Regions from separate parts of the Homo sapiens genome. Here region 1 is linked to region 2. The links come from fine-mapping of genetic effects on plasma protein levels. A gene starts in region 2. The other region holds a variant in brackets. All regions are shown on one strand. Distances are between the middles of the regions. Region 1 overlaps NPDC1 (neural proliferation, differentiation and control 1). Region 2 holds the start of ENTPD2 (ectonucleoside triphosphate diphosphohydrolase 2).

Region 1 (11,672 bases), 17 kb after region 2:
GTGTGCGTCTCTGTGTCTCCGTGTTCGGGGCTCCTGCGGGTGTGGGGCTGGCCCTGAGTGCCCGCCGGCTTCGCTGCCGGTGCGCGTCCCGGGGTCGGGGCCTCAGTGCTGCTCTGCCTGTCCTCACGCCTTGGGTGGCGCTGGGCACCGGCCTTGTGCGCCATGGTGGGCGCTGAAGTTCTGGGGGCACTTATGGCGCAGGCTCGGGGTGCTGTTCTAGCTTCAATAGGAGGGAGACTGTTGCAGCCTCAGAGCCTCCGCCTGCATCCCCTGCCCTCGAGGGCACTGGCATTCTGTCTTTGGGACTGAGGGCTGCAGGTGGACTCCGGAGGAGGGTGATAAGCCCAGGGTCCTGGGACACCCTCTCACCTGCACAGATGGGTCCTGAGGGTCCAGAGAGCAGAGCTCCCTGCAGGAACCCAGGATGCAAAGCTGACGTTTTTCTGGGGGGACTGAACTGGGAGACTTTGCGACTGCATTCGTACAGTACTCCTGGCAGCCCTGCAGAAGAGGTGCTGTGAGCCCGTTTTACAGGCAAGGAATCCGAGGCATGGAGAAGTTAAGTGGATTGTGGCACAGCTGAGGCGCTGTCCTGGGCAGCCTGGTTCTGTGTGTGTGGCCTCAAGGGGCCAGAGTGAGGCCGGCTTCCTCCTGGGCTCAGTGCCCCTGGATGGGAGGTGGGCATGAACAGGAGAGGCTTCCGAGAATCAGAGTGTGCTCAGCCAGGAAAGGCGGAGGCCACCTATTCAGGAAACGGGGCTGCAGCTGCTGTGCTGAGCCCGGGTGGGTGGCAGGTGCCAGTCCTCAGTTCACCGGCCTCTGCAGCTTCGTGTCTGCCTCACCGGGAGACCTGGCAGGGCCCTCCCTAGGCAACTCCTCCCATTCCCAGTGCCCAGTGCTTGGAAGGGAGGGCCCTCAGGCAGCCCAGACGTTGGCGGGTGGAGGGGGGTGTGCCAGCCACCGTCCAGCTGCTCTTGTTCCTGCGACCTCTTTTCAGGAGGAGGAAGTGGGGGATGGAGGCTCCTGGGCTGGGGAAAAGGGCTAGGAGGGGCCTGGAACCCAGACCCTAGAGCCAGCTTTGTACCTCAGGCCCCTGCCTTTGGCGTGGTGGACGGTGGGGTATCAGCACAGGAGCGGGGACTGCCTCACTCCCCAGGTGCCAAGTTGGCGGGTGGGCCCAGGTGGACCTGCTGGCACAGGTTTAATGTTTAACGTGCCCAAGTCCCGGCCCACTGATACTGGAGGCTGCTGCCCCAGGTTGTGGAGGGTGTGCGGTGCCTGGCGTTGGCTCCTGTGCCCACCTGCCACTGCGGCTGCTGGAACTGCCTTGAAGGAAGGCGGACAGCCTGAGGGCCCTGAGTGTCAGGTTACCAAGGAAACCAAACCAGCCAACCAAGGTCTGGAGAAGGATGATGCCCCGTGTGGCCCCCGTGGCCCTGCCTGCAGTGTGCAGTGTGGGGCTGGGCAGAGAGGAAGAGTCCTGGTTAGCCAGAGGTGCCACCGCAGACTCCCCAGGCAGGGTTGATGGCCCTGCTGGGGTTCCCCTGGCTCCACTGGCTTGCTGTGACTGGGGACATTCCTTAGCTTTGAGGCAACTCAGCTATATCCCAGAGGGGAAACTGAGGCAGAGGGCCATTGCCCCCTCGCCCCGTTCTCCAGCACCAGGATAAGACTGATTAGCCACATGTGTCAGCTGGCACCGTGGCCTGGGCCCCTCATCAGCGAGATGAAAGTGTGGTTAGGAACTAGGGAACTAGGGCCTGGCCTGCCATCCCCAGCACTGCCAACCTCGGCCTCCTGAGGCCCTCGGGTGCCACCTGGCCCCTGACTGCAGCCCCTGGTGTGGTGGCTTTGGGAGTGACCTGCCTGGGTTCTGTGTCTGAGGCCAGTGAGGTCAGCAGACTCCATCTTAGGTGTCCTCGGTGCCTGGGGGACAAGCCAGAGGCTGGAGGAGCAGCATCCCTTCCAGGCTGCACACTTGTCAGTGCCGGGTTCTGGGGAGAGCCGCACGGGAAGGAGAGGTCGCTGGCGGCATCGTTTGCTGCTCCCCAGAGACAGACCTGGGCCCTTCCCTCTGGGACTCCCAATCTGGACGGGGTTCCTGGCTTGCTGTGGGGCATGTTGAGGCCGGAGGCTGGGCTTGTGGGGCTGCACGGCCCTGCCCAGGAGAACTCAGCACTGCCTGGACGGCGAGACTCAGCTTCTGAGCTGAGGGCTCTATCAGGCCTGGAAGTGGACCCTGGGGAGGGGTGGGGCAGGGTAGTTCTGATAAGTCCTAGGACTGTTCGCTTCCGGGTTCTGAGCCCTGGCGTCAGGGAGGAAGGGCATGTCCAGAACAATGGCCAGAACCAGGCCCGGCCAGCTCGGGGGGTGACGGGGGCGGGTGGCTGGGGCAGCGCTGCCGTGTGCAGGGGCCGAGCCCTGCGGGGCCGTGAGCCGGCCCTGCCTTCTGCTTCCTTCCCAGATGTAGCCGCCTGTCCCGGGAGCCTGGACTGTGCCCTGAAGAGGCGGGCAAGGTGTCCTCCTGGTGCACATGCCTGTGGGCCCTGCCTTCAGCCCTTCCAGGAGGACCAGCAAGGGCTCTGTGTGCCCAGGATGCGCCGGCCTCCAGGTACGAGAGCAAAGGGGGAAGTCGATGGGGGGATGTCCCTGCATGAACCTCTCCCTGTAAGAAGCGGCCGGCTGGGCGCGGTGGCTCATGCCTGTAATCCCAGCACTGTGGGAGGCCCAGGCTGTTGGATCTCATGAGGTCAGGAGTTCAAGACCAGCCTGGCCAACATGGTGAAACCCCGTCTCTACTAAAAATACAAAGTAGCCGGGTGTGGTGGCACACACCTGTAGTCCCAGCTACTCAGGAGGCTGAGGCAGGAGAATTGCTTTAACCCGGGAGGCGGAGCTTGCAGTGAGCCGATTCACCACTGCACTCCAGCCTGGGCGACAGTGCGAGACTCTGTCTCAAAAAAAAAAAAAAAAAAAAAGAAGGCCGGGAGCAGTGGCTCACGCCTGTAATCCCAGCACTTTGGGAGGCCGAGGCGGGCACATCATAAGGTCAGGAGATCGAGACCATCCTGGCTAACACGGTGAAACCCCATCTGTACTAAAAATACAAAAACAAAATTAGCCGGGCGTGGCGGCGGGCGCCTGTAGTCCCAGCTACTCGGGAAGCTAAGGCAGGAGAATGGCGTGAACCCGGGAGGCAGAGCTTGCAGTGAGCCGAGATCGCGCCACTGCACTCCAGCCTGGGCGGCAGAGCGAGACTCCGCCTCAAAAAAAAAAAAGCAGCAGCCTGCAGCCTCAATGCCCAGGCCTGTGCCAGGTGGTCTTGGGGCCCCTGGACCTTGTGGGGTGTTGGGTCCAAGGCCTGGGAGATCCTCATTCACTCTCCACGAAGCCTCCCATCCTTTCCAAATGGAGGTGGGCCCAGGCCTGGGGCAGTCAGGCCCTCCCAGGAGAAGGGCTGCACGATGTGAAATGCTGGGATGGCCACGGGAGAGGAAGGGCCCATTCTCCCCGGGCCTGGGCTCTGCAGGGTCTGCCCAGAAGCCCTCCAGGCCCCCACTTCCCCGTCCCCAGGCAGCTTGCTCTTTTCCACCACTCACTGTCCTGTCCGCCTGTTGGCAAATGTTGAAGGGTGCCAGCACTGGCTGGGTGCTGGGGATGCCCCGCTCGCCAGCCTGAGCCGCATCTGTCGGGATGGCCAGTCACTGAGTGACTTCAGGTGTGGTGAGGGCTTTGCTCAGAGGTGCTGGGGGTGGGAGCAGCAGCGGCTTCCTGGAGGAGGTGTTGAGAGGAGCACCGAGAAGTGGCTGTAAGGGTCTGTGTGGATGCACCTCCTGCCAACCTGGGAGCGTCCACCCAGACTGTGCAGCCCACAGTGGGTACCGGTGGAGCCCTGCCACCAGCCCCACCCCTGACAGCTGCCCCCGTTCTCCCAATGACCTGGGGAGGGGTCCCGGGTGCTTGGCTTCCTTCGGCTTCCCCCCACTCCTTGGGGAGTCCCTGCCCCTCTACCCGAGAAGGTGCTTGGAGGTGGGGAAGCAGAAGGGGCTGTGCTGGCCAGCCCTTTATGGACATGGGTTGGGGCGAGAGACCCCACTCCTTCCTCCCCGTGCCCGGTCTTTGGACGTTTCCCTAGCGCCTCCTCCCTTGCCCTGCCTCCACTTTCCGGGAAGCACTGCCCCTCACAGGAAGCGCCCGCGCTGTCACCATGGCAATCTGGGAGGGAGAGGGCCTCCAGGCGTGTACCCAGTCCTCAGGCTCCTGGGAGGAACCTGCCAGAAGCGGGGAGGCCGGGCCTGGGGCTACCTCCTGGACGGACCCCTCCACCTGATGGCCCCTCACCCTCCCCAGGCGGGGGCCGGCCCCAGCCCAGACTGGAAGATGAGATTGACTTCCTGGCCCAGGAGCTTGCCCGGAAGGAGTCTGGACACTCAACTCCGCCCCTACCCAAGGACCGACAGCGGCTCCCGGAGCCTGGTGAGACCCCCGCTTCCCCTGCCCCACGGCCCTGTCCCTAGCCCAGTGCTCTCATTCTAACCTGTCCTCTCTCGCAGCCACCCTGGGCTTCTCGGCACGGGGGCAGGGGCTGGAGCTGGGCCTCCCCTCCACTCCAGGAACCCCCACGCCCACGCCCCACACCTCCCTGGGCTCCCCTGTGTCATCCGACCCGGTGCACATGTCGCCCCTGGAGCCCCGGGGAGGGCAAGGCGACGGCCTCGCCCTTGGTAGGTCTTGGTCGGGGGTGGGCAGGGGCAGCAGGGCGCCCTGCAGAAGGCCGCCCTCACACGCCCCCTCCTGCAGTGCTGATCCTGGC[G/A]TTCTGTGTGGCCGGTGCAGCCGCCCTCTCCGTAGCCTCCCTCTGCTGGTGCAGGTGAGCCAGTGGCCGCGGGCAGGGCAGGGAGGGTGCCACACGCTCAGAGGTCTCAGGCCCCACTCCCCACAGGCTGCAGCGTGAGATCCGCCTGACTCAGAAGGCCGACTACGCCACTGCGAAGGCCCCTGGCTCACCTGCAGCTCCCCGGATCTCGGTGTGTGGCCCCCTTCAGCCCTGAGGCTCCCGCCCAACTCTGGCCGCCAACTGACCCTCGCCTCCTCCTTCCCACAGCCTGGGGACCAGCGGCTGGCACAGAGCGCGGAGATGTACCACTACCAGCACCAACGGCAACAGATGCTGTGCCTGGAGCGGTGAGTGGCCGCCCCGGCACTGCCACCCCCACCCACCCACCCCCCATCCCCACCTCCACCTCCATTTCCACCTCCCCTGGCCAACTTTACCCCAGGCCCTGCCACCCTCACCTGCACGCTAACCTTCACCTCCCCCGCCGCCCTGCACCCTCACCTCCCCTGGCCAACTTCACCCTGGGCTGTGCTCCCCTGCCACCCCAGGGCTGAGGTGGGCTGAGTGCCCACTTCCAGACTGGGCCACTGGCACCTCGAGGGCATGGGGAGGACCCAGCGATCCCCCCCCACCCAGGCATAAAGAGCCACCCAAGGAGCTGGACACGGCCTCCTCGGATGAGGAGAATGAGGACGGAGACTTCACGGTGTACGAGTGCCCGGGCCTGGCCCCGGTGAGTGCCTCAGGGTGCAGGGAGGGGCGAACCATCTCCTGGGGTTCCCTCCCAGCAAGTATCCCCCCAGCCCACCCACTGCCCAGCCTGACACCCACATTCGCAGACCGGGGAAATGGAGGTGCGCAACCCTCTGTTCGACCACGCCGCACTGTCCGCGCCCCTGCCGGCCCCCAGCTCACCGCCTGCACTGCCATGACCTGGAGGCAGACAGACGCCCACCTGCTCCCCGACCTCGAGGCCCCCGGGGAGGGGCAGGGCCTGGAGCTTCCCACTAAAAACATGTTTTGATGCTGTGTGCTTTTGGCTGGGCCTCGGGCTCCAGGCCCTGGGACCCCTTGCCAGGGAGACCCCCGAACCTTTGTGCCAGGACACCTCCTGGTCCCCTGCACCTCTCCTGTTCGGTTTAGACCCCCAAACTGGAGGGGGCATGGAGAACCGTAGAGCGCAGGAACGGGTGGGTAATTCTAGAGACAAAAGCCAATTAAAGTCCATTTCAGACCTGCGGCTTCTGCCTGTGTTGCCAGCTTGGGTTAATCTTCCACCGCCTCATCTCCCATTTGGGGCCCTGGTAGACGGACCCCTGAGTGGGGGGCCTGGGGTCTGCTCTTGCACCCCCAGAGGGAGGAGGCCTTTCTGTTCGCTCATTAGGAGGACCTTCCCATCCCGTGGAGCTGGAGGAGAGGCCACGGGATCATCCCCACCCTCCTCAGCCAGGCCTCACCCCTGCAGACCCTTCTACGCAGGTGGGAGAGGGGAAGGGTGTAGTGTAGGGCTGGGCCAGCCCAGGGTTGGCTCTGCGGCCCGGAAGACCCCATCCTGTGTGATAAAGAGGGCTGGAGCAGGTGATAGTCCACACGCACCTGGATGTGGGTGCCCACCACCTCCAGGCAGAAGGAAAACAATGCAGACATTGAGTCTGGGTTTCTCATGGGGACCACGGCCGCCAGGCCCTGCAGCACACGGAGGAGGGATGGCAGGCAGAGGTACCTGTGTGATACCAGCTATGCAGAGCCAGGTGGACCCAGGGGGCCAGGTGAGGGGTGTGATGGGAGGGGCCTGGACGCCTGGAGCTGGGACTTGGCCACTCCTAAATTTGGAGCAAGAAGGCCCCGAGGGAGGAAGGGGAATCATGTGGTCAAAAGTGCCCAGATCAGGCCAGTACCAGGTCAGCGTGCGGGGGCTGAAACTCTCTGTCCCACTGATGCTGGGGACGTAGGAGGACTGGGTTCAGAAGCCCCTCAGTGGTTGTTAGGAGTCTGGAGGTCCAGGCACCTAGACAGCCCTGGCGTGTTCGTGTTATTAATCAGGGATCTCTTTTTATTTATTTATTTATTTATTTATTTATTTATTTATTTATTTTTGAGACGTAGTTTCACTCTTGTTGCCCAGGTTGGAGTGCAATGGCGTGATCTCGGCTCACTGCAACCTCCGCCTCTCAGGTTCAAGCGATTCTCCTGCCTCAGCCTCCCGAGTAGCTGGGATTGCAGGTGTGCGCCACCACACCTGACTAATTTTGTATTTTTAGTAGAGACGAGGTTTCTCCATGTTGGCCAGGCTGGTCTGGAATTCCCGACCTCAGATGATCTGCCCACCTCGGTCTCCCAAAGTGCTGGGATTACAGGCGTGAGTCACCACACACGGCCAGTCAGGTTCTCTTAGAGAAACAGAACTAATAGGAGATATATATATATAGAGAGAGAGAGAGAGGGGGGCCAGGTGCAGTGGCTCATGCCTGTAATCCCAGCACTTTGGGAAGCTGAGGCGGGCGGATTGCCCGAGCTCAGGAGTTCGAGACCAGCCTGGGCAACACAGTAAAACCCCCGTCTCTACTAAAATACAAGAAATTAGCCAAGCATGGCAGCGTGTGCCTGTAGTCCCAGCTATCTGGAGGCTGAGGCAGGAGAATCGCTTGAACCCAGGAGGCGGAGGTTGCAGTGAGCCAAGATTGCACCACCGCACTCCAGCCTAGAGACAGCAAGACTGTGTTAAAAAAAAAAAAAGAAATACATATATATATGAAGGGGAGTTTATTAAGTATTAACTCACACGATCACAAGGTCCCACAATAGGCCGTCTGCAAGCTGAGGAGCATGGAGAGCCAGCCCGAGTCTCAAAGCTGAACTTGGAGTCCGATGTTCGAGGGCAGGAAGCGTCCAGCACAGGAGAAAGATGTAGGCTGGGAGGCGAGGCCTGTCGTCTCCTTTTCACGTTTTTCTGGTTGACATTCGCTGGCAGCTGATTAGATGGTGCCCACCAGATGAAGGGTGGGTCTGCCTTCCGCAGCCCACTGACTCTAGTGTTAATCTCTTTTGGCAACACCCTCTCAGACACACCCAGCATCAATACTTTGTATCCTTCAATCCAATTAAATTGACAGTATTAACCATCACACCTGGCATGGGGAAGATAAGGCCCACTGGGCACCGTCCCTGGAGAAAGGGTGGGCCAGGCAGGCTGGGGGAAAATTGTTCACCCCTGCTGGGGGAGACTGGCTTGACCTAAGCAACATGTTTTGGGGGCCACAGCCCACCCAGACCAGGAAGCCCCCTTGCCTCTCACCTCTCACTCCTCACCTGTGACCTTGGGCTGGCCCTCAGCTGGGAGCCCCATGTCCCTCTGGGCACTGCTGTGATGGGGCAGGGTGTGATGGGAGCCTGTGTGTGGGCCCTGGTGTGATGGGTGCCTGCGTGCATGGGGCAGGGTGGACGCTGAGCCCACGTGGCACGCCCACGCCCACCATCCTTCACTCTAAGCCATTAGCCACAGGGAAAGCGGGTGGGTGCAGGGAGGCCCGAGCGTCACTCAAGGGCGCAGGGCAGCGTCTGGCCCAAGGCCAGCGTGTCACTGGCTGGGAGGTTCCCCTGGAGCTCCACGTTCAGTCCCTCAGGTCACAATACACACCTATCCTGCTGGCCTGACGCAGGGGCCCAAGAGCCTCCTAGTGTGTCCCATCTTCTTCTTGTTCTGGGTGTCCCCAACCTGTCCTCAGGGTCCCTGCTGCCCATTCTCTTAGGTATTGGCAAGGAAGGACTCCCTCCCAGAGCAGCTGTGTGAGAAGGGAGCTGGTGGGCCTGAGCTGGGGAAGGGTTGGCAGGGGGCTAGGTCCTCCGGTGGGGGCATAGGCCCCCATGCAGCCTAGCACCCTGCTCCCCACTCGCCTTTTTGGAATTGTTTTTTTTTTTTTTGAGACAGATTCTCACTCTGTCAGCCAGGCTGGAGTGCAGTGATATGATCTTGGCTCTCTGCAACCTCCATCTCCCAGGTTCAAGTGATTCTCCTGCCTCAGCCTCCCGAGTATTTGGGATTACATACAGGTGCCTGCCACCACGCCCAGCTATTTTTAGTGGAGATGGGGTTTCACCATGTTGACCAGGCTGGTCTCGAACTCCTGACCTCAGGTGATCCACCCGCCTTGGCCTCCCAAAGTGGGATTACAGGCATAAGCCACCACACCAGCTTTTTGGCTTTCATTGGCCCCTGGCCAATTCAGACAGAAGGCCTTCAACTTTGTCCAAGCTCCTGCCCCCACCCATCAGGAGCCCCCTTGCTCCCATAGGCCCCAGGCTGTGGGTGAGCTGCCCTGGGGCCCCCAGGGACTCTGGAGACCCCAATCCTGGGCTTGGGGCCTGGCTCAGCCTTGCCTGGGGGCCCATTACTCAATTCCTTTCCACTTTACCTTCTGCTGTTCCTGTCCCTGTCCCAAGGGCCCTGGCGGCAGTAAGAGGCAGATTTCACCTTGGTTTCTGGCTCAACTCTGAGCCCTGAGCCGGCCTGAGCCTGCTGACCCTGGCCCGGCAGCCTAGCGCCCCCTCCACCAGTTCCCACTTGAGGAAGCCCAGCGGGGCACTGATGTGCATCTTCCAGCCTCGGCTACCTCCCTGCTTGGTGCCCTGCCCACACCTGGTGACCTCCTGAGCACAGATGCCCAAGAGTGACATGCCCAGACCCTGGCGGAGACGCTGGGGTGGCACTCATCTGTGCAGAGATGCCCCCAACCCAGCAAGATGCTGGGGCAGGACCATGCTTGACCCAGAATGTGGGGCGTGTGATCCCCTAGCCAACATCCTAGGAAGCAAGGACATCCCCAGCTTCTGGCCCTGGGAGGCGATCTTGTTCCCCACCCTGGGTGGCTGGGTGGGCCGGCCCCGGGTTCAGAGTCCCTGGCTGCAGCCCTCCCCTACAGCCACACAACACAGAGGAGCGGGTCCCGGCAAAACTTGGGGTGCAGAGTGGGTCCCTGGAGGACCAGAGCCCCACCCAGCAGCTCCACCTGGAGGAGAACAAGGACAGACGTGATCCCCCCACGCCTTGGGGCTCAATGGGATGAGAGTTGGAGGGGAGGGGCTGAGCTCACCCACTGCACCACCCTGTGCTGCCCCTCGACCAATCCCTCCACTTGGGGGTCCCCTTGGCCACCTGCCAGGCTCCGTGCACCCACCCAGCTTTCCCAAGGCGAGGTCCGAGGGGCTCTCCAGCCCCCAGCTCCACCTGTTACTGAGAATAAGGGCAGTCTTCCTTGTTGCCGGAGCCATGTAGCTTTGCAGCATGCCGCCAGGGAGCGCTCGAGACACGCATCTGGACTGCCTTGCTCAAGCCAACCCATGAAGCAGGTGGGGCTCAGGAAGACAGCCAGGCTCAGCCCGCTCCCTGAGACGCCCCTGGGGCTGGGGCTGGGTGCCCCTCACCTTGCTGCTGCCCCGGGTGCCGCTGTCTGCAGGGGGCAGCTGGCCAATGGTCTGCTCTTGGTCTGGAGTGGGGCCCACTGGGTTGAGGCCTCTTCAGTGGGCATCCACCGGGAAGCTGGCCCACAGTGAAGGCTCAGCGGGGAAGAGCTTGTGTCCTGATCATCACGATGCTCACACACCACGGAGCTGGGGTTGGCTGCCTGCCTGGGTCCGCACAAACCCAGGGAGTCAGGAGGCCTGGGTGGGGTGAGATGAGGGGGAGCCCCTGCCCCCCGACTTTCTCTTTGACTCATGCCCTTTTCTTTCCTCTGAGAGGCTTTCGTTCTGACCCATTTCTGGGCAAAACCCCCGAGCCCCGTTTGCCAGCTCGCAGGTTCCCACGCACGATTGGGCCCCATGGCAGCCACCCTGCCCAGGGTCCTCAAGGAGCAAGCTAGGGGCGGAGGGTGGGGGAGGCTCCTTCAAATCCACCCAGGGAGGGAGCAGGCTGTGGCTGCGGCTGAGGTCGGTGGCAAGGGACCCTGCCAGCCTGGCAGCACAAACAGGAAGGATGGCAGGCTCTGGCACCAGAGGCCGGGTCACCCGCAGGCGTGGCAGGACAGCCTCCTTCCTGCAGGAACTGCCGCCGGGTGTCTGTTTCAAGGAGAAGAGATGGGGTGGTGTGAGGCTGAAGCCAAGGTGTGGCTCCCCGGGGGCCCCCTGCCAGAGGAGGAACGCTGGGGTGGGATTAAAGGCCCAGGTGCCACTGTGGTCATCACCGAAAACATGGGAGGCTGGAAAGGCGGGGCTGGAGGCAGCTGCCCACTCTGGTGCCAGCCCCTAAGCCAAGCAGCTCAGGCACTGACAGTTTCCCGTGGCGCCCACAGGCACCCCTCCCTCCAAACCCCCCTCCCTCCAAGCTCCCCTCCAAGCTCCCCTCCCTCCAGCCCCCTCCCTCCAAACCCCCCTCTCTCCAGCCCCCCTCCCAAGCCCCCTCCCTCCAAGTCCCCCTCCCTCCAGCCCCCCTCCCTCCAGCCGTTGCACAAGTTCCGCAGCAAAGCTCAGCTCAGAGGCTACACTGCGCCACAGGGGTGGGGGCCTCTGACTACCACCCTGTCCCAGTCTTGCCTCTGTCCCCACAGTGGGATCCTCCCACTTCAGTCTCCAGCTGCCTGGTTCCCCTCCCAAGGCAGCCTTGTCCTCACTGTGGGGCCGGGGAGAGGCCAGCAGCCCCTGGGGCCCAAAAGTAGAACAGGACAGGGACAGGGGTGGTGGGAGGCAGGCCCCCTCTGAGGGTGCTGGGGCAAAGGTCTGGACAACAGTTCATGGTTGCCATTCCTCCCAGGACACACGATCTGAGCCCCCAAAAGACCTGACAGGACAGACGCGTCCTCATTCCCAGCATCCCAGCATTTTGGGAGGCCGAGGTGGGAGGACT
Region 2 (10,507 bases):
CAGCCTGGGCTACAGAATGAGACTCCGTCTCAAAAAAATAATATTAATAAAATAAACATGTATCGGTCGGGTGCAGTGGCTCACACCAGTAATCCCAGCCTTTTGTGAGGCAGAGGCGGGAGGGTTGCTTCAGCCCAGGAGTTTGAGGTCAGCCTGGGCAATACGGCAAAACCCTGACTCTACCAAAAATACAAAAATTAGCCAGATGTGGTGGCTCATGCCTGTGTTCCCAGTTACTGGGGCTGCTGAGGTGGGAGGATCACTTGAGCCCAGGAGTTTGAGGTTACCATGAGCTATGATTGTGCCACTGCACTCCAGCCTGAGTGACAGAGCAAGACCCTGTCTCAAAATAAATAAAAGAAAGAAAAGAGAGAATTCGAGAAAGCCCAGACTTTTGGAATTTTTTTTTTTTTTTGAGATGGAGTCTCGCTCTGTCGCCCAGGCTGCAGTGCAGTGGCGCGATCTTGGCTCACTGCAAGCTCCACCTCCTGGGTTCACGCCATTCTCCTGCCTCAGCCTCCTGAGTAGCTGGGACTACAGGCGCCCGCCACCACACCCGGCTAATTTTTTGTATTTTTAGTAGAGACGGGGTTTCACCGTGTTAGCCAGGATGGTCTCGATCTCCTGACCTCATGATGTGCCTGTCTCAGCCTCCCAAAGTGCTGGGATTACAGGCGTGAGCCACCACGCCCGGCCCAGACTTTTGGATATTAAAGCAGACACGTCTAAACAACTTATGTGTCAAATTTAAAAATTAGCCGGTGTGGTGGCGCGTGCCTGTAGTCCCAGCTACTCAGGAGGTGGAGGTGGGAGGATTGCTTGAGCCTGGGAGGTCGAGGCTGCTGTGGGCCAAGATTACATCACTGCACTCCCGCCTGGGTGGTAGCGTGAGACCTTGTCTCAAACAGACACACACACACACACACCAATAAAGGTATAAATAGCTTTTCCTCTTTCATGAAAAGAATAGTAAAATAGGAAACAAACATGACAGAAACTTGGTTGAGAAAAAGTACACAAAATTTCTGGCTAAATTAATCAAGAAAAAAGAGATAAGGCACAAATAAATGATATTAGGAATAAAAAAGAGCAAAATAGTCACACATGCTGCAGAAGTTAAGCTGATTCTAAGAGGATATTTTAAATGAGATTATGCCAATTCAGCTGGAGTGGGTAACTTCCTAGAAAAATACAAAATCAGCCACATGGGCAGGCTTACGCCTGTAATCCCAGCACTTTGGGAAGCTGACGCGGGAGGACTGCCCGAGCCCAGGAGTTTGGAACCAGCCTGGGCAACACAGGGAGACCCTCCACCTCTACAAAAAATAAAAAAATTGTCTGTGTGTGGTGATGTGCCCCTGTGGTCCCACCTACTCGGGAGGCTGAAGTGGGAGGATCACGTGAGCTCAGGAGACGGAGGTTGCCGTGACCTGTGATTGCACCACGGCACTCCAGCCTGGGCAACAGAGTGAGTCCCTGTCTCTAAAAATAATAATAACAAATCTCAAAAAACAAAAAAGAAAGAAAGAAAAGAAAAAAATACAAAATTGGCTCAGGAAGAATAGTTAATAGGGGTCTGGCCCTGTAACTATCAAAGAAATGGAAACAGTACTGTAGAAGCCAGCACAGTGGCATATGCCTGTAGTCCCAGCTATTCCAGAGGCTGAGGTGGGAGGATTTTTGAAGCTCAGGAGGTTGAGTCTAGCTTGGGCAACATAGTAAGTCTGGTCTCTAACCCATCTCTTAAAGACAAAACAAACAAAAAACTTCCCACAGAAAAATTGGGCCTAGGTGTTTTTTTTTTCAGGCAAGTTTTTTTTTTTTTTTTTTTGAGACAGAGTCTCGCTCTTTCGCCCAGGCTGGAGTGCACTGGCTCGATCTCGGCTCACTGCAAGCTCCTCCTCCTGGGTTCACGCCATTCTCCTGCCTCAGCCTCCCAAGTAGCTGGGACTACAGGCGCCCACCACCACGCCCGGCTAATTTTTTGTATTTTTACTAGAGACGGGGTTTCACCGTGTTAGCCAGGATGGTCTCAATCTCCTGACCTCGTGATCCGCCCGCCTCGGCCTCCCAAAGTGCTGGGATTACAGGCGTGAGCCACCGCACCCGGCCTTTTCAGGCAAGTTCTACCATAAATTGCAGGAACAGATAATCCAAATATTACGCTAATTTAAAAAAAATTAAAGCAATTTTTTTGTTTGTTTGTTTTTGGTAGAGACGAGGTCTCACAATGTTGCCTAGGCCGGTCTCCCAAAGTACTGGGATTACAGGTCAGACCATCATGATATCAAAACCATAGAGGAGGCCAGCCACGGTGGCTCACACCTGTAATCCCAGCACTCTGGGAGGCCGAGGAAGGTGGATCACCCGAGGCCAGGAGTTTAAGACCAGCCTGGCCAACATGGGGAAACCCCGTCTCCACTAAAAATACAAAAATGAGCTGGGTGTGGTGGCACATGCCTGTAGTCCCAGCTACTCACGAGGCTGATGCACAAGAATCCCTTGAGCACGGGAGGTAGAGGTTGCAGTGAGCTGAGATTGAGCCACCGTACTCTAGCCTGAGTGACACAGCAACACCTTGTCTCAAAAAAAAAAAAAAGGCAAAGGGAAGCCAGCCATGGTGTGGACCTGTGGTCCCAGCTACTGCAGAGGCTGAGGCAGGAGGACCATTCGAGGCCAAGAGTTTGAGGCCACAATGAGCTATGATTGCACCACTGCAGTCCAGCCTGGGCAATAGAGCAAGACCCTGTTGCTAAAACAAACAAACCAAAGGCCTGTTACCTACTTACAGGGAAGAGGCAGCAGGTGGCAGGGGAGGGGAGAGACTGTTACCAAAACACCAGGGGTTCAGTCCAGGTCCTGCTGTTCGCTGCACAGAAAGCCAATCACGGAGACCAGGAGCACCGCCAGGGGGAAGGCTTTAAGCCGGCCGCAGCCAAGGAGATGGGTGCTCAGTCTCAAATCCGTCTCCCTGACCCACTGAAATTAGGGGTTTATAGAGCAGGGAAGCCACGTAACTAGGTGTGAGAAAACAGGAATTAGGGGCAGCTGAAGAAGAGGAGTTGGTCAACAGGAAGCTGGTGGTTGGCCAGGCAATCTTGACAGCTGGGGGGTCTGGTGTCTCATTGTCAAGATACCGTGATCTGGTGAGTTTTAGCTCTTTCATTCTATCTGGGGGCCTCATGGTTGGTTTTCTGAGAAAGGAACTCAAATAGGACAAATGTCACTTTCTCAAATTTTAAGACTAGGAGGATCAATTTCTGTGTTTATTCAAAGAAACCATAAACATCAGTTCCACGGGACAATTGAGCCGGTTTCAAAATCAAAGAAGGCCAAAGCCAGGCAGGGTGTGGCACACACCTCTAGTCCCCAGCTACTCAGGAGGACTGCTTGAGGCCAGGAATTTACCAGCCTGGGCAACATAGTGAGGCCCCGGTCTCCAATAAAAGGAGATGGGGGGCTGGGTTTGGTGGCTCACGCCTATAATCTCAGCACTTTGAGAGGCCAAGGCAGGTGGATCACTTGAGGTCAGGAGTTCGAGATCAGCCTGGCCAACATGGCAAAACCCCGTCTCTACTAAACATACAAAAATTAGGCTGGGCACGGTGGCTCATGCCTGTAATCCTAGCACTTTGGGAGGCCGAGATGGGCGGATGCTCAGGAGTTTGAGACCAGCCTGGGAGCAACACAGTGAGACCCCGTCTCTATTAGAATGCAAAAAAATTAGCCTGGTGGCACACGGCTGTAGTCCCAGCTATTTGGGAGGCTGAGTCAGAAGAATTGCTTGAACCAGGAGGCGGAGATTGCAGTGAGCCGAGATCACATCACTGCACTCCAGCCTGGGCAACAGAGGAAGAGTCTGTCTCAAAGTAAATAAATAAAATAAGATAAAATGAAATAAAATGCTCACAGTGCCAGCTAGAGCCATCGTTCAGAAAAGAATTTGGCACTTGCTAGAGAAGCAGAACACACACTTGCCTGACAACCAGCAGTTCAGATCCGGGATGCTCCCCAGAGAAGTGCTCTCAAGAGCACACATGCGGCCGGCGCAGCGGCTCACACCTGTCACCCCAGCACTGTGGGAGGCCGACGCAGACGGAGAGGCCGGGCGCGGTGGCTCACACCTGTCATCCCAGCACTGTGGGAGGCCGAGGCAGGCGGGTCGCCTGAGGTCAGGAGTTTGAGACCAGCCTGGCCAATATGGTGAAACCCTGTCTCTACTAAAAATACAAAATTAGTGGGGAATGGTTATAGGCGCCTGTAATCCGAGTTGCTCAGGAGGCTGAGGCGGGAAATCGCTTGAACCCAGGAGGTGGAGGTTGCAGTGAGCTGAGATCGCGCCACTGCACTCCAGCCTGAGCGATAGGGCCAGACTCCACCTCAGATAAAAAATAAAATTAAAAAAAAGAGTGTATATGTGCAGAGCAGCAATCTCAGCAAAGCCTAAAGCCAGACACTGTGTGTTCACCAGCTGCAGCGACACGCCGTCTGCATGTTCTCACTCACAGGATGGAATACAGCAAGGAACAAACAAGCCACACCTCTCAGTGTCAACAGGGTGAATCCCAAACGCGTAACGTGAGTGAAAGAAGCAAGTCCCAGAACAGCACGTCCAGCACATCAGAGACCACCAATGGGGTCCTGCTGCCACCCTGGCATTGCTCTTACCAACTGTGCATATGTGCACCTCCCATTCTGTTGTGTCTCCGACCTCGAACAGGACAGCACAGGCTTCCCCGCCTCCCGTGGGCCTTTGCAAAGTCTGCTCTCCCCAGGCCAGTGGGTGCCCTCCCCACAGGGCTCCCTGTGCATGCATGGAGCCTGGCGTGCTTTGGGCACCCAGGAGTACTACTCAGCAAGCGTTTGTTGAATGACTTAATGAGCACCTGCAGAAAGGGAGCAGTGAGTGAAAGGCCTTTCACAATTAAACCATCAAGGTGTTTCGGCCACAGCACAAGTTTCTTTTTTTTTTTTCTTTTGAGATGGAATCTCGCTCTGTCGTCCAGGCTGGAGTGCAGTGGTGCAGTCTCAGCTCACTGCAACCTCTGCCTCCCAGGTTCAAGCGATTCTCTTGCCTCAGCCTCCCAAATAGCTGGAATTACAGGTGTCTGCCACTACAGCCGACTAATTTTTTTTTTTTTTTTGACTCGCTCTGTCACCCAGGCTGGAGTGCAGTGGCGCGATCTTGGCTCACTGCAAGCTCCGCCTCCCGGGTTCACACCATTCTCCTGCTTCAGCTTCCCGAGTAGCTGGGACTACAGGTGCCCGCCACCACGCCCGGCTAATTTTTTGTATTTTTAGTAGAGATGGCATTTCACTGCGTTAGCCAGGATGGTCTTGATCTCCTGACCTGATGATCCGCCCGCCTCAGCCTTCCAAAGTGCTGGGATTACAGGAGTGAGCCACCGCGCCCGGCCCACAACCGGCTAATTTTTGTATTTCTATTAGAGACGGCGTTTCACCATGTTGGCCAGGCTGGTCTTGAACTCCTGACCTTAAGTGATCCACCTGCCTCAGCTTCCCAAAGTGCTGGAATTACAGACGTGAGCCACACAGCACAAGCTTCTGATGTGGAGACTGAGGCAGGGCAGCCAAGATGTCAGCAGGCCTCAGGAAAGCCCCCCTCCCTGGGAGGTCTGAGCCCTGCGTGGGCGGGAGGCTCCGAGTTCCCTCCCCCAGGGGTTCTCCCCTAACCTCTCTGCATCCGCATGTTCCCAGCTCAGCCGGGGTCATGTGCAGCACATCTGGAGGCCCCATCCCCGAGAGGGTCCTGGAAGCCGAGAGCTGCCCCACCCAGAGGCCCCTCCACCCCTTCAGCTCCTGCCAGCTTCCCTCTGACGCTCTCCCAAGTCTGCCTTCCAGGGTCCCTGAGTCCATGCCAGGAAGGGGCGTTCCCCCGCCCTCACTCCGTCTCAAAGAGAGCTCAGCCTCAGCCTTTGTCCTGGCCGCTCTGGGCTCCCTGCCTCTCCCTCCGCAGGCGAAGCTGGGCACTCGGCCATGAGCCTGTCTCCCCGGGGCAGAGTCCAGCTCCCCTCTCCCTCCCCATCCTCTCAGGCCTGGCAGACCTCCCACTCCCTGGCTTGAGCTTTTTGTCCATGAAAAGAGTCCAGAACACCAGGAAGCCCCGCTGGGCCTGGAGGGAAGCGGGGTACCGCAGGCCAGTGGGGGTCGCAGCACCCTGCCTCTGGGCGGCCTTTGTTCCTTCCTTTTCAGGCATGATGTGCACTGTGCGTGCCTCTCCCTCCTCTGGGCGGTCAGGGGTGGAAGAAAGGCCTGGGGTGTGTGGGGGGAAACTGGGGCCTGGGGCCTGGAGCTTAGCACCGGCAACACCCAGAGATTGCCTGCTGGAGCCCCGCCAGGCTGGGCTGTGAGGCTGAGGCAGCAGAGAGGCTTCCCAGGGTTCCCACCCCTCCCTTTGGGGTCCTGAGCTGGAAGAAAGATGCCTTTACTGGGCCTGTGGCGCCAGACCCTCAGCCCAGGCAGCAATCCCAGCACAATTGTCACTGCCCGTTCCAGAAGGCCGGGCATGGTCTGGACCCTGCCCCATGGGGCTGCCCTTTGGGCCCCAGCAGCCTGCACTCCCTGGTGGCCTTGCCTCGTGGCTCCCTGACGCTGTGTGGCTGGAATTATTGGGACAAGAATTCCCACTTTGCAGCAGGCGCAAAGGGGGTGGCCCCTGGCCGGGCTGGGATGCGGGGCCTGTGAGGCTGCAGAGCCGAAAGGCCAGCCATGTCGTGGGACGGAGGAGCAGGGCTTGCGTCTGGGGCCAGCTGCGCTTCGCCTGCCCCAGCCGTCCCCAGAAGCCTGTTGCTGACCCGCACCCCAAGCTTGGCCTGGGGACCCTCTTCCTTGCCTTTCAGGCCACGTAGAGGCCCCACCTGTTTCCGTCCTGGGGAAGCCTCCTCTGGCCTCCGCAGCCCAAGCCTCTGTTCCCCTCAGGCCGAGGGGGCAGCAGGCGCGGCTGAGGCCCTGGGCTGGGAGGTATGGACCTTTGGCCCGGTCTGTGCTGCTTCTCCTGTTTCTCGGCTCGGTGTGACCTGGGCCGTCCCTCCCCTTCCCCGTTCCTGCGTCCTCACCTTCACCTCAGTACAGGGCCCAGGTGAGGTGGATCTGACTGGGCCTCAAGGGTAGTTCTGGCCTGGGTCAGCTGCGTGTCTCTGGAGCTGACCTGCGCTGGCTCAGCGCCGCAGGCTGGCGGATCCTTGCTGGCCGGGAGGGCATCCCGCAGGCCAGCCTGGTCCTCACCAGCCCTGGGAGTTGGCGCTCAGGGCCCTGCTCCACAAACAGGTGCTGACCCTCGGCTTCCTCCTGAGTCCCCAGCCCGGGCCCCGCGTGGCTCCGCAGCCGACAGTGCCTCATTCCTGCAAGCGAGTCTGGCCTCCTTTCCCGGGCCCGGGAAAAGCGCGGCTCTCCAGCACAGGACCCTCCGAGCCAGCCTCGCCCGCCCACCCCCACGCCAGGTCTCCTGCCTCCACGGCCGGGGGATCCCCTTGCTGAGTGGGCGGGAAGGGGAAGGTGGGCCATAGCCGCGGGGCGCCCGGGCTCAGACCCGGGAGCCGGGGGGCGGTGCTGGTGACTCAGCCGCGCCCGCGTCTCTCACCTGCGCGGGCCGGACGGCGGAAGCTTGGGAGCGGAGGCGAAACCTGTCCGCCCGTGGGCGTGGCCGGTGATGGGCGGGCCCGCCCGGCCTCCCGCCCCTCGTCCCGCCCCGGGGCCCCTACCCCGCGGTCCCGCGGCCCCGCCCGCCTCCGCCTCCGGCTCCCCGCACTCTCCGGGTCCACGCATCGTCCTCCCGCGCGCCCGCCCGCCCATGGCCGGGAAGGTGCGGTCACTGCTGCCGCCGCTGCTGCTGGCCGCCGCGGGCCTCGCCGGCCTCCTACTGCTGTGCGTCCCCACCCGCGACGTCCGGGAGCCGCCCGCCCTCAAGGTGCGCGCCCGGGCACCCAGCGCACGTCTGGGGAGCAGCGGGCCGGGCTTGGAGCCGGGGAGGGGGTGCGGCTGGGAACCTGAGCAGGATCAGCCCGGGACCCCCACCGTGCTCTGCTCCTGGCGGGCTGGGTGGGGTCCCGGGTTCCGCGCTCTGCGCTCCCCGACCGGGTACGCGGAGGGGGCGGGGGGCGGTGGCGCTTCCAGGGCGACGCGGTGCTGAAGGAACAAGTCCCGGGAGTTCCGCGCCCGCCGCCGAGTCCGTCAACGCAGCCCAGGGGCTGTGTCCCCGCTCCCGGGATAGCCCAGCGATGCCCCCTGGGTGCTGCCGGACGCCCGCCCCCAGGCCTGTGCGGGCCCCCAGGGGCACTCCGGGCCACTTCTGCCCTGTGCCGCCGCCCCGGAGGGTGCGGTTAGAGCCACATCGACTGGGTATTCAGCCCAGATGGGGATCCACAAGCCCCAGGACCCAGGGCCCCCGCCAGGACACGAGAGTGGCCCAGAAAGACAGGAGGGCTTGACCGGAGCAGCCCTGGCCGGTCCTCAAAAGGTTGGAGCAGGCTAGCCTGGATCTCCACTCCAGCAGGCCCAGGGACCTCCTGGTCGGCCCCTTTAACCCTTTATTGGGCTTGTAGGGGGGTGGGGTGGAGAGCCAAGTCCCCCAGCCTGATGGGGAGTCAGAAGCAGGGAGCTCTGCGGCCCTGCAGGACGGCCATGTGGCGGTGCACGCGCTGACCTGTTGATGCTCTGGGCTCTGGGGAAGCCTTGGTCGGGATGGACTGGTGCGGCCCTCTCGGAGGCTGGAATTGGCGCCCGGGCCTGGGAGGCTGGTCCCCAGCTTTCCAGGTGGATCCAGGATGCTGGGGCAGGAGCTGGAAAAGGGCATTTACAAGCTCGTGCCACTCAGGTCTGCAGGAAGGCCCACCCAGCACCCCCAACAAGGCAGGGCCAGCCTCTCTCTCTGGCCCTGGCTTGGAGGCCTAGGGAGAGTGTCTTTAGAGCTGACCTGGCTCTGAGGCCCACGGCCAGCCTCGGTGGACCTTCTTCACCTGGGGCCCTGCCTCCTGCATCCTCAGGTTGGGCTGCCGTCAGAGGAGCTGGAAGGAGACAGAGGAGGAAGGAAGAGGGGAGGAAGGAAGAGGGACTCTAGGGAGCTCCTCTTGCAGAGGAGCTTCCTCTCCCTGAGCCTGGGAAACTTGTGCCCCAGGGAAAAGTCCCTGGGGACCCTCTGTCCCTCTGTCCCTGACTCAGTCCCTCAGTCTGCCCTTGCCAGGAAGGCTGCTGCCCAGACCCTGGCATGCTGGCTTCAGGTAGTCAGGAGGGAAGAGTCACCTCCCCACCACCTCCCTGTTCTCCTTCCAACCACGGCCTCAGAGGAGGCCCTGGCCTCCTCTGAGCTTCAGCATGAGGCTTGGCACATGACTGGGTGGGGGGGGGAGCGGTGGCAAACTGGAGGAACCCAACTTCACGTTTGGTGTCAGGGTGTCAGGGCCCCCGGACACCCCAGGCTGACTCCCTCCCCCTCCCCCGCAGTATGGCATCGTCCTGGACGCTGGTTCTTCACACACGTCCATGTTTATCTACAAGTGGCCGGCAGACAAGGAGAACGACACAGGCATTGTGGGCCAGCACAGCTCCTGTGATGTTCCAGGTGAGGCCCAGCCCAGCCCAGCCAGGACGCCCACTCACTGCAGGGTCTCTGGGACCCTCTCCAGCCTTAGCCAGTGCAGGTCCTTCTGCTTAGTGTTGGGTGGGGCTCACTCCAGGCAGAAGCCCTGGAAAGAGAGAGGCTGGTGCCCCTGCGCCTGAGTGGGGCCAGGAGTCGTTTGCATTCTAGAAAGGAAGCCTAGGCAGCAGGTGGGGAGGTTTGAGCCTCGCCGGGCCCAGTATTGGCTTCTGTGCCCCAGATGGAGCAGGAGGAGGTCTGGGGGCCTGGCGGACACACCCAGGCAGGCCTCAGGAGGCCAACCTGGGTTGACCATGCCCAGGGCTTTGTCCTAGCACCTGCACCCACACCCTCTCAGCAGGCAGCAGCCTTGGTCTCCGGGTGGCACCTGGGCCCCTTTGTCTCCAACCTGGGCGTTTCTGGGGGCTTAAGCAGGGAAGGTGTGCCACCTGGTCTGGGAGCCCACGGCCCCCACCCCCACCCTCACTCTCCTGGCCTACGGCCCACCTAGGGGCTGCCCGTGAGGCATAGGCTCATCTCTCTGCCTCCCTCTAGGTGGGGGCATCTCCAGCTATGCAGACAACCCTTCTGGGGCCAGCCAGAGTCTTGTTGGATGCCTCGAACAGGCGCTTCAGGATGTGCCCAAAGAGAGACACGCGGGCACACCCCTCTACCTGGGAGCCACAGCGGGTATGCGCCTGCTCAAGTGAGTGTGCCTGTGCCCTGGCCCTGTCCCCATGATGGCCTTTGGCTGTGACCCCTTGCAGGGCGGACTCCGAGCACCCCTACAGCAGGCTCACAGCCACCTGGGGAGAAGGCCTCTTGGAGTTCTCTGTGTTTTGCAGCCTGACCAATCCAGAGGCCTCGACCAGTGTGCTCATGGCAGTGACTCACACACTGACCCAGTACCCCTTT

The links. PIP is the posterior inclusion probability: the model's chance that the variant is causal. The UK Biobank Pharma Proteomics Project read protein levels with antibody pairs (Olink). The fine-mapping took linkage between variants from a reference panel, not from the people measured, so its PIPs are less certain.
Region 1: its variant is fine-mapped to the plasma level of the ENTPD2 protein (UK Biobank, PIP above 0.99).

The regions. Positions count from the first base shown.
Region 1 is chr9:137,033,866-137,045,537 of GRCh38, reverse strand. NPDC1 (neural proliferation, differentiation and control 1) reads left to right here. Exons shown (of 9, transcript NM_015392.4): 2 at 2,465-2,611; 3 at 4,351-4,476; 4 at 4,554-4,724; 5 at 4,801-4,867; 6 at 4,940-5,024; 7 at 5,102-5,181; 8 at 5,471-5,567; 9 at 5,674-6,075. The coding sequence ends at 5,766. LINC02908 (long intergenic non-protein coding RNA 2908) reads right to left here. Exons shown (of 3, transcript NR_171031.1): 3 at 7,583-10,888. Among named protein-coding and RNA genes, the nearest start is that of NPDC1, 6.5 kb to the left of the region's middle. RefSeq lists enhancers at 9,073-9,959, 9,960-10,848, 10,701-10,900. The variant G/A (reference allele first, on the strand shown) is at 4,814.
Region 2 is chr9:137,051,301-137,061,807 of GRCh38, reverse strand. ENTPD2 (ectonucleoside triphosphate diphosphohydrolase 2) reads left to right here and starts at 7,747. Exons shown (of 9, transcript NM_203468.3): 1 at 7,747-7,927; 2 at 9,460-9,577; 3 at 10,148-10,298; 4 at 10,438-10,507. The coding sequence starts at 7,811. LOC105376327 (a long non-coding RNA gene) reads right to left here and starts at 9,463. Exons shown (of 2, transcript XR_930455.2): 1 at 8,933-9,463; 2 at 8,433-8,798. RefSeq lists silencers at 7,512-7,591, 7,692-7,761.